Homo sapiens: one gene and its partners. The protein of the gene in region 2 interacts with the protein of the main gene of each other region in a biochemical or structural test. Each region holds a gene or a part of one and is shown on either strand. Other genes may lie near its edges.

What was found. The genes of interacting proteins can lie anywhere in the genome.
Region 1: the proteins of KIDINS220 (region 2) and PTPN3 interact in a test that uses a peptide from one of them, tested with the Homo sapiens proteins (one large-scale study listed by IntAct).
Region 3: the proteins of KIDINS220 (region 2) and LIMK2 interact in a test that uses a peptide from one of them, tested with the Homo sapiens proteins (one large-scale study listed by IntAct).
Region 4: the proteins of KIDINS220 (region 2) and CRKL form a complex in vitro, tested with the Homo sapiens proteins (one study listed by BioGRID).

Annotation. Positions count from the first base shown.
Region 1 is NC_000009.12:109,491,808-109,495,307, reverse strand, and holds part of PTPN3 (tyrosine-protein phosphatase non-receptor type 3), read left to right. Parts: intron 1-3,500.
Region 2 is NC_000002.12:8,729,614-8,733,113, forward strand, and holds part of KIDINS220 (kinase D-interacting substrate of 220 kDa), read right to left. Parts: intron 2,370-3,500; coding exon 1,107-2,369; 3' UTR 1-1,106. UniProt on the Homo sapiens protein: Promotes a prolonged MAP-kinase signaling by neurotrophins through activation of a Rap1-dependent mechanism. Provides a docking site for the CRKL-C3G complex, resulting in Rap1-dependent sustained ERK activation.
Region 3 is NC_000022.11:31,257,298-31,260,797, reverse strand, and holds part of LIMK2 (LIM domain kinase 2), read right to left. Parts: intron 2,508-3,500; coding exon 2,372-2,507; intron 1,678-2,371; coding exon 1,568-1,677; intron 910-1,567; coding exon 721-909; intron 1-720. UniProt on the Homo sapiens protein: Serine/threonine-protein kinase that plays an essential role in the regulation of actin filament dynamics. Acts downstream of several Rho family GTPase signal transduction pathways.
Region 4 is NC_000022.11:20,923,907-20,927,406, reverse strand, and holds part of CRKL (crk-like protein), read right to left. Parts: intron 1-3,500. UniProt on the Homo sapiens protein: May mediate the transduction of intracellular signals.

The DNA of each region.
Region 1 (3,500 bases), on a different chromosome or scaffold from region 2:
TCACCTTCCAGCATTGCGGTCCTGGAAAGCAGGGACAATGCCTCTTTATCTTTTCCCAAGATCTGTTGTAGAAGCTGGAATGCTGAAGGCACCCAGCACATACCCTGGTCTGGAAGGGCTGGTGGGGGTGCAGTAGCCTACCCAGCATCAGCTCTTCATTCCAACTCTAATAGAGACAGGAGGAGACCAGGTCAGTGTCCACACTGCTCTTGGCTGGGTCCAGGTGACCTCAGAGCCTGATCTTATAGATGTCTTCTTTCCTCTGGCCGAGAAGGACCTGAGAAGTGCTTGGTAAGCCCCTGGCTGAAAACTGATTTGGTAATGGGTTCTAAGACCCAGAAATGTTGCATCTCCAGAGCTTCTGCTTGTGTGTGCACCTGAAGCTTCCCACTGCCCCCAGGTTAACTTGTTATTCCAAGACCAGGTGTGAGCACAGATTTAACAGCAAATTGAGACATTTATTGAGTCTCTACCATGTATTAGGCCATAGGGCTACAGAGGTGAACGCTGAACCCCTGCCTTGGAAGGATTCATGGTGGATTTGGAAAGACAGTTTGTATATGTGTATGTGCGTCCCCATCCATCTGTCCATGGTCCTGTAAGTACTTTAAAAGGATAAGCTAGGTGCAAGAGACACCAGAGGATGCAGCCATTCATTCCGATGGGCATCAGGAGACACTGTGGAGCGTAGTTCTAACCATGGGGAGAAGTTAGTTCTAACTTCAAGGCATAATTTGAATTAAGCCTCAAACTTAGGAACAAGATGGCATTTAGGGCAGGCAAAACAGCAGGGGCAAAGGCATGAAGAGACTTTGTGGATCATAGGCGTGGTGATTCTTCTCCAAGTCCAACCTGGTCTTTTTTGTTTTTTGAGACAAGGTCTCACTCTGTCATCAGGCTGGAGTGCAGTGGCCCGATCATGGCTCAAGCAGTCCTCCTTGTACCTCGCACCTGGGACTACAGGCATGTGCCACCACACCCAGCTAATTTTTTATTTTTTGTGGAGACAAAGTCTTACTATGTTGCCCAAGCTGGTCTCGAACTCCTGGGCTCAAACAGTCCTCCTGCCTTGGCCTCCCAAAGTGTGGAGATATAGGCGTGAGCCACCGCACCCAGCCAAATCCAGCCTCTTGGTGTTCACTAATGCAGAACCCACCTGCTCTGGTTCGGGTCTGCTTTATCTCTGTACATGGGCCAGGCCTCACCTAGCCCAGGGCTAAGTGCCTATTCTCCTTGTTTTCACCTGGATGGGAGCAATGCCACTGTGTTGTCTTTGAGGCAGGAGTAACTTCTGCAGGGATGCCTCTGGTTTTAGTTATCAGCACTAATCTGTACTTATTGGTTGCCACACACTGTTGTGAGTGCTCTCCAAATAGTAACTTAATTCATTTAATCTTCACAGCAACCCTGTCGCCAGGCTGCCTCCCAGGTACAAGTAGGTGGGGGCTGAACTCCTCTGCCCAGTGTATGTCCCTCTGTGGGTGATGCTCTGATTGTGGCCCGGCCTCCCCCTGGCTGCCTTTACATAGATGTGCCGGGAAACAGCCCAGTCTGAATTGCAGTGGAGCACTGACCCCATTTCCTTTAGGGGACCGGCAGGACTGTGCTGACTGCGTTTTCTGAACCAAAGAACGGGATCTGTAGTGTGAAAAAAGAATGTGTGTGCCACTGCTTTGTGCAAGAGGAGGCCTGAGAAGTGTTTGGATACTGAGAGAGTGGAATTTTTGAAACATTTTGATGGTTTATATGGAAAGTTAGGACAGAGGATTTGAAATTGGAATAGTCCTGGAAAATTGAGGTCCCATGATTTACTGTTAGGATACACAAGCTTTTAGTAAATGTTTAAGCAGTGTAGAGTGAAGTGAATTTTTTTTACTGAGCCCCCATAGGGAACAAACAGTGCATTTTAGCCTCAAAATCTGACTGATTCCTTCCAGCCCCATTTTACAGAGGGGGTGAGAAAACTGAGGCTCAGAGAGATGAAGTAACCACCAAAGAGCACAGTGTTTGTAAGCAGTGCAGCCGAGATTTGTCTTTTTGGTTTTTGTTTGTTTGTTTGTTTTTTAAATATAGAGAAAGGGTCTCGCCATGTTGCCAGGCTGGTCTTGAATTCCTCGGCTCAACTGATCTTCCTGCCTCAGCCTCTCAAAGTGCTGGAATCACAGGCGTGAACCACTGTGCCTGGCTGCAGCCAACATTTGAACCCAAGTCTGTGCCTAGACAAATCATCTGTTGTCAAAGTCAAATAAAATATAAAAACAGATGTTTCTCTAAATTTAAAACATTTTGCTTGGGAAGTAAGAATAATAATTTGGGAAATCTATACAGACTAGGTGGTCTTTGGTTTGGAAAACAAAGAGAATGTTGGGAGTTTTATTAGAATGAGAAATATTATGTATTGTTTTGAAAAAAGTCCATCGGCACTAGAGAAGCTCTTCGGGAGCTGGCAAGCTCTGATTGTTGCATGATGGTAGCAGATAAAACTAGTCTTAGGGTCACAGCAATTTGTTTCAGTAGTTATTAAATAAAACTGGTTTTAGGTTATAACAGGCAGTTTTAGCAGCCACGCTTGCAGAGAATTACATTTTTGGAGCAATGTTATGTGCCCTGAGTATTTTTCCCCTGGCCTCTCAACTCTGATTTAGTTGGGCATTACAATAATGACCCAAATTGTATAATCAACTTCCACCCTGTAAAATGAGGATCATAATTGCACCTATTCCCTTTAAGTTGACTGTTGTCAATGAGCTAATGTGGAAAACTAAGGCAAAACTTGGCATAGAAAAGGGGTCCCTCACTTTGTGGTCAGACCCCTGACCCTCCAGACAAGTGCTTTGATCTGTGTTCAGTGCTGAGAGTCGCTGTGGGTGAGTGAAGGTCCCTCCTCAGCCAGGACCACAGGTCCCGGTTCTCAGGACTGAAGGGATATTCCAAGAGGGAGCATCCAGGACTGTGCAGGGGCCATGGCTGCCTGAATGCTGTGCTGATGAGGGTCCCCTGGCGTAGGAGTGGGGTTGGAGACCTGGCCCATGCATGTCACCTCCCTCAGCCACATCAGCTCAAGGGCTAGCCCAGAGGTTCTCGGTGAGGGAGGCAGCAACCAGCTCCATCAGCTGTTTTTTGACCGCCAGCCACCATTGGGCCTGGGGAGGGGAGGTTGGCCTCTGAGCTCAGTCTTCCCCACTGGCTCCCCCGAGTCCCCTCCCCTGCTCTGGTTATCAAATGCATTCATGGTTCTTGTAGAAAATAAAGTGTCAGGGAACACAAGAAAAATTATGCATGATGCTTCTCTGAAAGCAGCTGGTCCACTGTCAGCACTGCCATGATCTGCACATGCCCTCTCCTGCTTCCAGTGGATTCTCTACTCCACAGACGGGGGAGTCTTCCATACACTCCTATTTTTCTCAAAATGAAGACAAAGCTGATCTCTCAGCATCTCCTGCAGGCCCTATGTTCATGCTCTTTGAGCCCTCACCTCACCGTGCTCCTTCCTGCTGCAG
Region 2 (3,500 bases):
GTTACATGTTTCCAAATTTTTTTTTAAAAAGTATTTCCTTTCTTATGATCCTTCCCCAGAACTAACATGCTGACTTAGGAACAGATGAAGTAGATAAAGTCTATCCTAGTATAGAGAGCAATGATTTAGTTTTACCTAATTAAATATTTCCTTGTCATTTATCAATTGTCACTGACCTTTTTGATGTAATTATTTCCTCATTCACTCATCTATAAATATTTATTAGTACCTATTATTACCCATGTCTCCCTGATTTTCCAGAAAAAGAATTCATGTTTTTTTTTCTTCTCATTGCTAAGCTCACTTAGAAAAGTTGGGCACCATTTAAAAGAGTTGGAGAACAGACCAGGGTGGCTTCTTGGGCACAGCTGGATGGTGCTGGAAGCCAGGCCTGGGATTTGGAGAGAAGAGTTTCCGACATATAAACCCACGGAGGTCACCAGCCCTCCCCGCATCTACTCTCCTAACAGCTCAGGACAGCCCCGTCACACTACTGCCAGCCCTGGTGACTCACTTTGTTGGCAATTTTTAAAGCCCTCTTCATTATGTACTTCCTACTCTTCAGAACCTCTGTGATAAGCAATACCCCTGCCATACAGAACGCTGGATCTCGGTTTACTCAGCCTCTCCCTGTAGCGTCACAGGCTGTGCACTCACCTAGGTGAGCCCCTAAGAGCAGGGTTTGCTTCTGCTTCACCTAACGCCACGTCTTCCCTCAAATGTGTGGTCACCAAATGTTTGCAAAAAGGGTCTCTAGCTTTTTTTCTTTTTGGCACATTAAGCCCTTTAAAATACTTCTGACCTATCTTTATACTCAGATCTCACCTCGTCTCAAAAAGTTTTATGGGGTAATGCGCCAATGAAAGGTACAGTAGTATTAGTGAGTTCTGAAGCTTCTAATTACAAAGACCACAGAGGCTGGCTGGTGAGCCATGCTTCTCATGCTCCCTTCTGTCACACTGCAGATGTCTCTTTTACCTCGGCCTCATCATCGGTTAGTTATCTGTCAGCAAAATGTAGAAAGGTGATGGGCGTGGATGGAGTCAAAATCCAGGACAATTCTGTCATAAAGGTACAGTAACACTCTTCTCCTTTGCTTGTTTTTCTCAAAGAATGCTTTCTCTTTCTTCTCCAAAGCCTGTGCTCTCAGAAGAGGCTGCTGCATGGAGCTCCGGAGGATCTTTGGAGAGCCTTGTGTAACTTGAACGTTGGCTTCGCTTATGTGTCATGCTTTTTAGATTCTCATTCTGAATAGTGGTTGGGTTGGGACTGGAACTAGGCCTCAAAATGACTTGAGAAGTCTCCCTAATTCCCTCCATCTCATCGAAATTTTGATTGGCTCTGTTGGCTGGAGCACTATTGTTGTTCAGAGTCACGGTGCTGGGAGTTCGGTTCAGGTTGTAGGCTTTCTGGCATGCAGGCCAGTTTTCTTCAGGGCTGCTGGCTATCAAGCTGCATTCGGAAGGGCTTTTCTTGTCTTCTGAACAAATGGACATCCGAGCTATAATTGGATCTTGCAGGCCACTCAGGCTATGTGGGATTCCCCGCTTTCCGCTGTGACTGTCATCTTCCAGCTCTATGAGATTTGCCTTTTCAAGCTGGGAGTCATCCGCCACTTCATTGTGCAGAGAGTGATTGGGAGAACTTTCACTGGATCTCACTCCTGAATCCGATGAATCCTTTTTGTCAAGGAGCGCATCCGATAAATACTCTTTGGCTTTAATGAAGGTTCTGATCGGCTCAGCACTGTGTTCTGGAGACTTCGGCACTCTCTCTACTTTCCCTTCGGCTTTTCTGTCTTTGTCATCTTTGAGCAGTGGAGTGTTATCTGATTCTTCTGTGCCAGATTCATCCTCGTCACTTGGGAGTTTTTGATAGCGCAGCCCACTTCCCTTAAGCTTCAAATCTGTCTGGAAGAGGCTTGACCTTTCGGAAGATTTCTTGCCTGGGAGAAGCTTACTGCCTGACTGATCTGATTTTTCATCTTCTTCAGTGATAGGATCCAGGGGGGAAGCATCGTTGGTGGAAACCCCTGATGATGAATAATCGATAACATCTCCCCTCTTCATTAGAAAGGACTTCCTCCCATCATCGGGCTTTGGTTCACTATCCTTCCCCTTTTCTTGCTCTAGGTTTGAATGAATAGAGCCCCCTGATGAACTCTGACCCATGTAATATGTGCTATGTGGAGAAGATCTGCCACTAATGGTTGTAGACCCGGGGCCCCCTTCTAACTGGGACATCTGAGCAATGTATTCTCTATAGGCATCTCTATACTCGGCCTGCACCTTATCAGTAAGCTTTGAAATTTCAATACTGGAATCCTGGGAATTGAGACTCGAAAGACTTGGGGTTCTGCGAGTTTGTGACTGTGAAGACAGAAAAAAAATAATTTAAAAATTCAAATAAGAAGAAAAAAGGCATAAACATCAGCTTAGGAAATATATATGTACACTAACCATTTAAAAAGTCATCAAAACATCAAATTCTTTTAAAAGAATTCTACATAACACAGATTAACAAAAGCTGTGACCTTATAATGCTGTTACTAGAAAGCTTTCTATAAATTTTAATAAAATCAGTTTATTGTTAATATTTAAAAGTATGATTAAACACTGTATTAACAAATAATCTTAGCACTTGTTTCTGGTTTTTATTTCATTTTTAAGAGACAGGATCTTGCTGTGTTGCCCAGGCTAGATTCAAACTACTGGACTCAAGCAATCCTCCCGCCTCAGCCTCCTGAGCAGCTGGGACTATGGGCATGTCCCACATGCTCGGCCACAGCACTTGTTTTTATAACTTCAAACGTTTAGCTTTTATTTAAGGCCAAAGTCAACTTCATTGATAAAATATAAAATGCAATGAGGCCAATAGTTGGGCCTTAGTAAACAGAAAAATAAAGTAGTTTTACAAGTTTATTTCCAATATTAAGTTTTAGAATTAGAATTTGCTTCAGATCCCAGAATAGCTAAGAAACAAGGAGCAAAAAGTACAGATGAGGAAAAAGAAGGAGAAGAATCAAGAAAGTTTAAGAAGGGTCAAGAGCAAAGGCTAAAACAAAAAAGAAGGAGCAAAGTGAATTTGTTGGGGACCTTCTCAAGGAAATAGGACATTTTCTTCCTTCCCCAAGGCGCTGCTCCTCCTCACCGCTGCCCTGCCCTGCCCACTCAGTGTTACTCGCTGCCGCCCGCTGTGCCTCCTCCCCCGTTGTTCTCCACACCCTGCTCTGCTTTTCCTCCTGCGCTCTCCTCACTCCCGCTACTCCTCCTGCATCTCTCACTTTGCTCTGTCCCTGCCCCTACCCCTACCCCTCACCTGGCCTCCTTCTTCTAAGAATCTCCAAAGGAAGAACGCGCCTACATCTAATGCCAGACCAGAAGAAACCAATATCCGTGAAGGGTGTGCAGGCGTCCTGGAAAACCAAAGGATGGTGCTCAAAGGGACACTATGTGGCCAGTGTTCCAATGAAGATGTACTTCAACCAACAGTTACTGAAT
Region 3 (3,500 bases), on a different chromosome or scaffold from region 2:
CCCTCTGCCCTGAACACAATTCCCTCTCCTCTTCATCTAATAAGGTTGTAGAACAGACCTTAGCTCCTCCTGACTTCCCAAACTCTAGTATCTTTCACCTGCTGTGCAAGCACTAGCCTAGTGTCCAACACATGGTAGATACACAATCAATATTTACATGGTAAGCGGCCAGAGGTACGACATTACTGGTATTAGATAGACACAGACTCTTTCTCCATCTGGTCTCTGGCCTGAATCTAGGATAGGGTCTTAACTTCTTTTGGGCCATGGACCACATTTTCTCCATTCATTCTCTCGACTGACAAAATAATAATCAATCAACTCCTACTATATGCCAGGTACTCTTCCAAGCCCTGGGCATGCAGCACTGAATAAGACAGCAAGTTTCTTCTGGAATTTACATTCTAGTGGAGGGGATAGAAGATAAACAACTAATACACATAATCAAGCCAGATGATTTCAAAGAGCAAACATGACCTGAAACCTGACACCTGAAAGGTGAGTGATTCTTGCCTTAAGTATCGGGTAGGAAGTAGCCTGGGCAGAGAGAACAGTAAGTGCCAAGGCCCAGGTACGGTTACAGCATAGTGGGGTCCAGGAGAAAGATATGAGATGAGAATAAAGGGAGTTCTGCATGAGACTTTGGAGGTCTAAGCCCTCTGAGGCCCATTTACAGACTCTGCTCAAGAACCCCTGCTGAAGGGTTCTCAAAATACTTACTCTTTCACTTGCACAGTGGTGGCGTAGTTGGAGCAGGCACTCTCCACGGACACGGAGAAGCCCCGCCTGCCTTCAGTGGTGGCCGGCATGGAGATGAGCGTGACAGAGTAGGGCAGCTGCTCCTGAACAGACTCTGTGGAGAGTCTCTCAAACATGGGTGCCAGCACCACCTCATTGTGGCACTTCCCACTGGGGAGAGGGCACAGGGGGGAATAAGATGCTAGAGTCCCACACAGAAGCCCCCCAGCAACCACTGCACCATGTGGCTTTAAGCAACAGTACCCATAGTCTCACTACCACCCTCTTTGTCATGATTCTAGCTGGCTGCTCAGAATGAGGAGCCTGGGTTCTCAGGGTGGGCTGGGACTGGGGGTGCTGAGCTAGATCTGCAGCAAGTGGTATATTTGGAAAAACACTGGCCTGGGTTGGGGTGAGATGGTCTGGGTTCTCTTCACTCTACCTTTGACTCACAATGAGAACCTTGCCCTTGTACTATTCTATTCCATGGGCCCCAGGCTGACTTCTTTTATCAACCAAGGTGGTTGGACAGGGTGAGCTCTAAGGGGTCTTTGACTTTAATGTTCTGGGATCGTCCTTGAAGAGTGCCTCCCACTGGGAGGATTGCAGGGCAGAGTGAAGACATTTTCAAGGTTGGTAAGGAAAAAGGGTAGAGACATGTGTAAATCATTCTGCTTACAAGTTAAAGAGCTGGTTAAGAGCACTGCTGTGGTAAGAATCCAATGCTCTGACTACCCTAACACTCCTTCTGCCCAACTCACCCTGCCACTGTCCCTCCCCGCCAGCCACTCTTATATGGGAGAGGATAGACAAAGGACCACTATCTTACCAGTAGAGGGTGGCATGCTGCACCAGTGCATATGCATCCCCATCCTCAATGATCACCTTGCAGCTCATACAGGCAAAGCACTCTGGGTGGTACTTGAACTCCCCAGCCACCTGTGAGCAGGTGGGGAGAAGGGTGTACAAAGGGAGGAAGGAAGTGAGTTATCACTGTTGCTGGAGTGAGGACAGGGGTGGGTGAATGACCTCCAAGCAAGGCCCCCGTCAAAATCCACTCTTTCACTCTCTGCCCTAGAGCTTCCAAAGGAAGTGTCAGATTGGTACCTCCTGTCATTTCTGAGACTGCACAAAACTGTTTTGGTCTCAGTTATGAGAAGAAATCCCCAGAAGTAATCATCCCCACTAAAAAAGATCAGTTCTTCCAATACAGGGTTGGCAAGTCTGTCACTATGCTTAAAGTCGTTTGTCCAGAGCAGGTATAGGAGGTAGCCCCTCTCTCTGCCAGCCTATTCCAGAGTCTCCTTTTCTGATTCCCTAAAGACAACCTAAGTATATCCTCCTCTCAGCCTGTAACACTCTCCTTGGAGGTCCTTATCCAACTATATTGTGTCTCCTCTCTGCCTGCCTCTCCTCCCACTCCCAACGTTCAACTATTAAGTCTTTGAGGGAAGGATCTTACCTTTCACTTAGTAGGTGCTCAATTGATACCTGCTAGTTGAATGAATGAATAAATAAAGGGAGATGCCCTGGCTGATGGAAAGACTAAAAGATTAACAGGCCACAGGGAACTGGAAGCACTGTCAATGGACTCTGAAGACCAAGAGGGGCAGATATGAAGGGATTCACTCACCATAAAAGGCCCTGTCATCAGCAGGGAGCACCCATGACAGAACTCCCCAAACTTCCCCCAGTAGTCCTTGGGGCAGTAGAGCTTCCCATCCTTCTCATAGTACCAGTTGGTGAGGGAATCCTGGCATTCTGAACACCTGAAAGGCAAGACAAGAACTGAAATTCTCCTGGATCCCTGGAACCAGGCCACATAAGCTGTCCCTGGTTCCTAGGTATGACAACAAAATGGACAGTCCTCTTTGATCCAAAGCCAAGATGGGGCAAAGTTACAGCCTTGTGCTATCTCCCCAAGGGAAGCTGGTTCAGACTGAACAAGGCCCCAGAAACCAGCTCTGTGTTGCCTGCCTCAGTGGACAGACTAGTGTTTCATAACCTCTTTGGGTCTTGGGGCCCTCTGAGAATTTGATAAAAGCCAAGAAGCCTCCCCTAGAAAAATGAATATATAAAGAAGATGTGTATATAATTTAGGTGGGGGACAGGGTGTATATATAAAGGATTCTCTGAAACCTATTTATGGCACCAGTTAAGGATCTCTGGTCTTGACAGATACTTCAATGAACAAAAGCAGTTTAATCATCTCCACTCTTCAAAACTGACCCATCACCAACAGCGTTACCAATGTAATGTTCTTGCCAAAAATACGTTAAGTATAAAAAAACTAATCAGGCAAATCTAGAATGTGGGTTATTCTATAAGAATAACCGGTCTTGACTCTTCTAAAAAGTCATGGGGAGAAGAAAAGGCACAGATTTTAAAAACCCTAGAGACACAGCAACCAAATACAATGCCTCAAACTTGGATTCAAATTTAGATTAAAAAAGGAAACAGCCATGAACATTTTTTGGAACAACTGAGGAAATATGGATTTGGACTATAATATTATATTGTAAAATTGCCGTGAATTTTCTTAGATGTAATGATATCTGACTTATATAGGAGAATTCTTAGCAGAAACATATTGAACTGTTCAAGGGTAAAATCAAGATGCCTTTAAGTTACTCTGAAATAGTTCAGCAAAAATAAATAAATAAAAGTATACAGATAGAGGGAGAGAGATATATACAAAGTGGCATAACATTAACAAATCATGAATCTATGTGAAAGGTATGTAGGTGTTCTTTGAACTACAT
Region 4 (3,500 bases), on a different chromosome or scaffold from region 2:
CAGCCTGGTCCAATATGGTGAAACCCCATCTCTACTAAAAATACAAAAATTAGCCGGGCATGGTGGTGGGCGCCTGTAATCGCAGCTACTCAGGAGACTGAGGCAGGAGAATCACTTGAACCCGGGAGGTGGAGACTGCAGTGAACCGAGATCATGCCACTGCACTTCAGCCTGGGCGACAGAGCGACACTGTCTCAAAAAAAAAAAAAAAAAATTCAATTCCAAGATGAGCTAAGTACTTCTCTAGTGAAACTGCTTTAACCACCATTCTTTTTTTTTTTTTTTTTTTTTTTTTGAGACGGAGTCTTGCTCTGTCACCCAAGCTGGAGTGCAGTGGTGCGATCTTGGCTCACTGCAATCTCTGCCTCCCAGGTTCAAGCCATTCTCCTGCCTCAGCCTCCCGAGTAGCTGGGACTATAGGCGCACGCCACCATGCCTGGCTAATTTTTTATATTTTAGTAGAGACAGGGTTTCACTGTGTTGGCCAGGCTGGTCTCGAACGCATGAGCTCAGGCAATCCACCTGCCTCCGCCTCCCAAGGTGCTAGGATTACAGGCGTGAGCCACCATGTCCAGCCAGTAACCACCATTCTTTATCACTGACCAGCATTTAATGCCCAGGTCCCCTCCCTTCTGTCCCTGGGCTTTCAGGCCATCACTAATGGCTCCTCCTCCTATGCTTGTGGCTGCCTCTCCTTCCGCAGCTTCTCTTTCTCTACTTATTCCTGTTCTGCCTCCTCATTCTGGGTGATCCCATCTAAGCTGCGATTCCCAAATCTATATGTATTCAGCCCTTACCTCTCTTCTCAATAACAAACCCATCAGATTGCTAAATACCACCTGGCTTCCAGCAGGTACCTCAAAGAAAGATTCTTCCTGTTGAAAAGAATCACGCACCCACCCTAATCCCTTTCTCTTGTCTCAAAGGCACCACTCAATCCTCTCTGAAGTCATCATACCTCTCCCCTCACCTTCTATGTGCCACTTTACATTCCTATGGCATTTGATCTTGGCTCAGCTTCTCAGGGTCCCTCTCCAGTAACAGAGAATTAGTCCTTCAGATCTTTCCCCACCCAGAGCAGTTTCTCAAAAGTAAAACTCATCAGTTCTCCTTTTAAAATCTGACAGTTCTCTTTTTAAAAACTTTAGATGGCTCCCATTGTTAAGCTCATTTACAAGGCTGAGGAGGCCCTTTACAAGTTGGCTTTATCTTTCCTTCCTAGGTTCCTGCCCATCATCTACATTAATTATAACTGTGTCTTTACCAGCAAGCACTGCCACCATCTCTTCTACCACCACCTCTTCTACCTCGTATACTTGTTCTCATCCTTAAAGAATCAGTTGAAGAGCATCTCCTCTTTCAAGCCTCTCCCCACCTCTTAGGTACAGTTGATTGCCTTTGCTTTTAAGCTGTCATGGCATTCTAATTTTTTCAATAGACCAAAGCTTCTCAAAGACAAAAATCAAAAACAAAAACATGGTTTACTTCCATTAGATTCCAAGAGTCTAGCAGTGAGCTTTGGTATATTGTAGGCCTCTATATATCAAAGAACTTCCCTTTCCTATTTCCCTCCTTTTTTGTTTCTGAAAGCACAAAAGCTCAGGTATTCAAATTACCTAACTCTGGTTTAATACTGTCACAAAACTGGTGTGACAGAATTCGAATACCGTTGAGTGTGCACCTTCAAAGCCTCTTCTCATCCTCTTCCACTGTTCTTGTCACGTTCATTCCAGGTGAGTTGCTATGTGCCTGGTGGCCCCACCCAACTTGTTATGATTTTAGCTCAGATTCAACTCAAGTTAATCTGAACTCCCAACTAATAGGCTGTGCCCCCTTTTACTTATCTGAAAGAATTAAAATAATGTTTTTTGTTTGTTTGTTTTTTGTTTTCCGAGACGAAGTCTCGCTCTGTTGACCAGACTGGAGTGCAGTGGCGCTGGCGCAATCTCGGCTCACTGTCATCTCTGCCTCCCAGGTTCAGTCTCGAACTCCCGACCTGCCAGACCTCCCAAAGTGCTGGGATTACAGTCGTGAGCCACCACGCCCGGCCCAGAATTAAAATATTTTAATCTTAAAGACCCTCAGAAATCTAGTCTAATCATTCAGATCAAAAGGAAAAATTTAGGTCACAATTCTGTGGATTTGAGTTTTAAAAGTCACAAATCGAATGGCTACTAGTACTTTCCATGGGAACACAACTCTTTTTTTTTTTTTTTTTTTGAGACGGAGTCTCGCTCTGTTGGCAGGCTGGAGTGCAGTGGTGTGATCTTGGCTCAGTGCAACCTCTGCCTCCCAGGTTCAAGCGATTCTCCTGTCTCAACCTCCGGAGTAGCTGGGACTACAGATGCATGCCACCACGCCCAGCTAGTTTTTGTATTTTTAGTAGAGACGGGGTTTCACTATGTTGGCCAGGATGGTCTTGATCTCCTGACCTCATGATCCGCCCGCCTAAGCCTCCCACAGTGCTGGGATTACAGGCGTGAGCCACCACATCCGGCTGGGAACACAACTCTTAATTGGACAAGATTCCATTCTCAGCATGACAGTGTTCTTGTTTTTTGTTTTTTTGGAGAGAGTCTCACTCTGTCGCCCAGGATGGAGTCCAGCTGCACGACCTCGACTCACTTTAACTTCCACCCCCCAGGTTCAAGTGATTCTCCTGCCTTTAGCCTCTTAGGCACACGCCGCCATGCCCAGCTAATTTTTTGTATTTTAGTAGAGACAGGGTTTCACCGTGTTGCCCAGGCTGGTCTCAAACTCCTGCACTCAGGCAATCCACCCACCTTGGCCTCCCAAAGTGCTGGGATTACAGGCGTGAGCCACTGCACCTGGCCATGTTCTTGTATTTTTCTCTGAATCAAATTCACATGATTTTAACTACTGGTCAGGAGAAACGCAAAGGGGTTTATTCACAGAGTTGAATTCTATGCTGATTAAAATTACTGGCAATCCTTTCCCCATTCCAAATTATGGAAGTCTAGATTTGAGTTCTTAAATAATTAGAACAGGGGATGTAAAGAGGAGGCACAACCATGCTTCTTGTTTCCTCCTGTCCCTTCAGGGATTGGCTTCTACTTCACAGGTGTGTGAGGCTCCTCTTCTGGGCTCTCAGGTTAGACTAAGCACCCTTTCTCAGTTCTCCCACAGCTGTTTCACCATGCATGGAGATTAAATATATTAAATATATACAACTTACATTCATTCATTCATTCATTTTTTGAGACAAGGTCTGGCTCTGTTGCCCAGGCTGAAGTGCAGTGGCATGATCATAGCTCACTGTAGCCTCGACCTCCCATGCTCAAGCAATCTTTCCACTTCAGCCTCCCAAGTAGCTGGGACTTAAAGGCGCATGACACCATGCTCAGCTAATTTTTTAATTTTTTGTGGGAATGGGGTCTCACTATCTTGCCAGGGCTGGTCTCAAACTCCTGGGATCTAGCGATCCTCCTGCCTTAACCTCCCGAAGTGCTGGGATTACAGGCACGAGCCACCGAGCACAG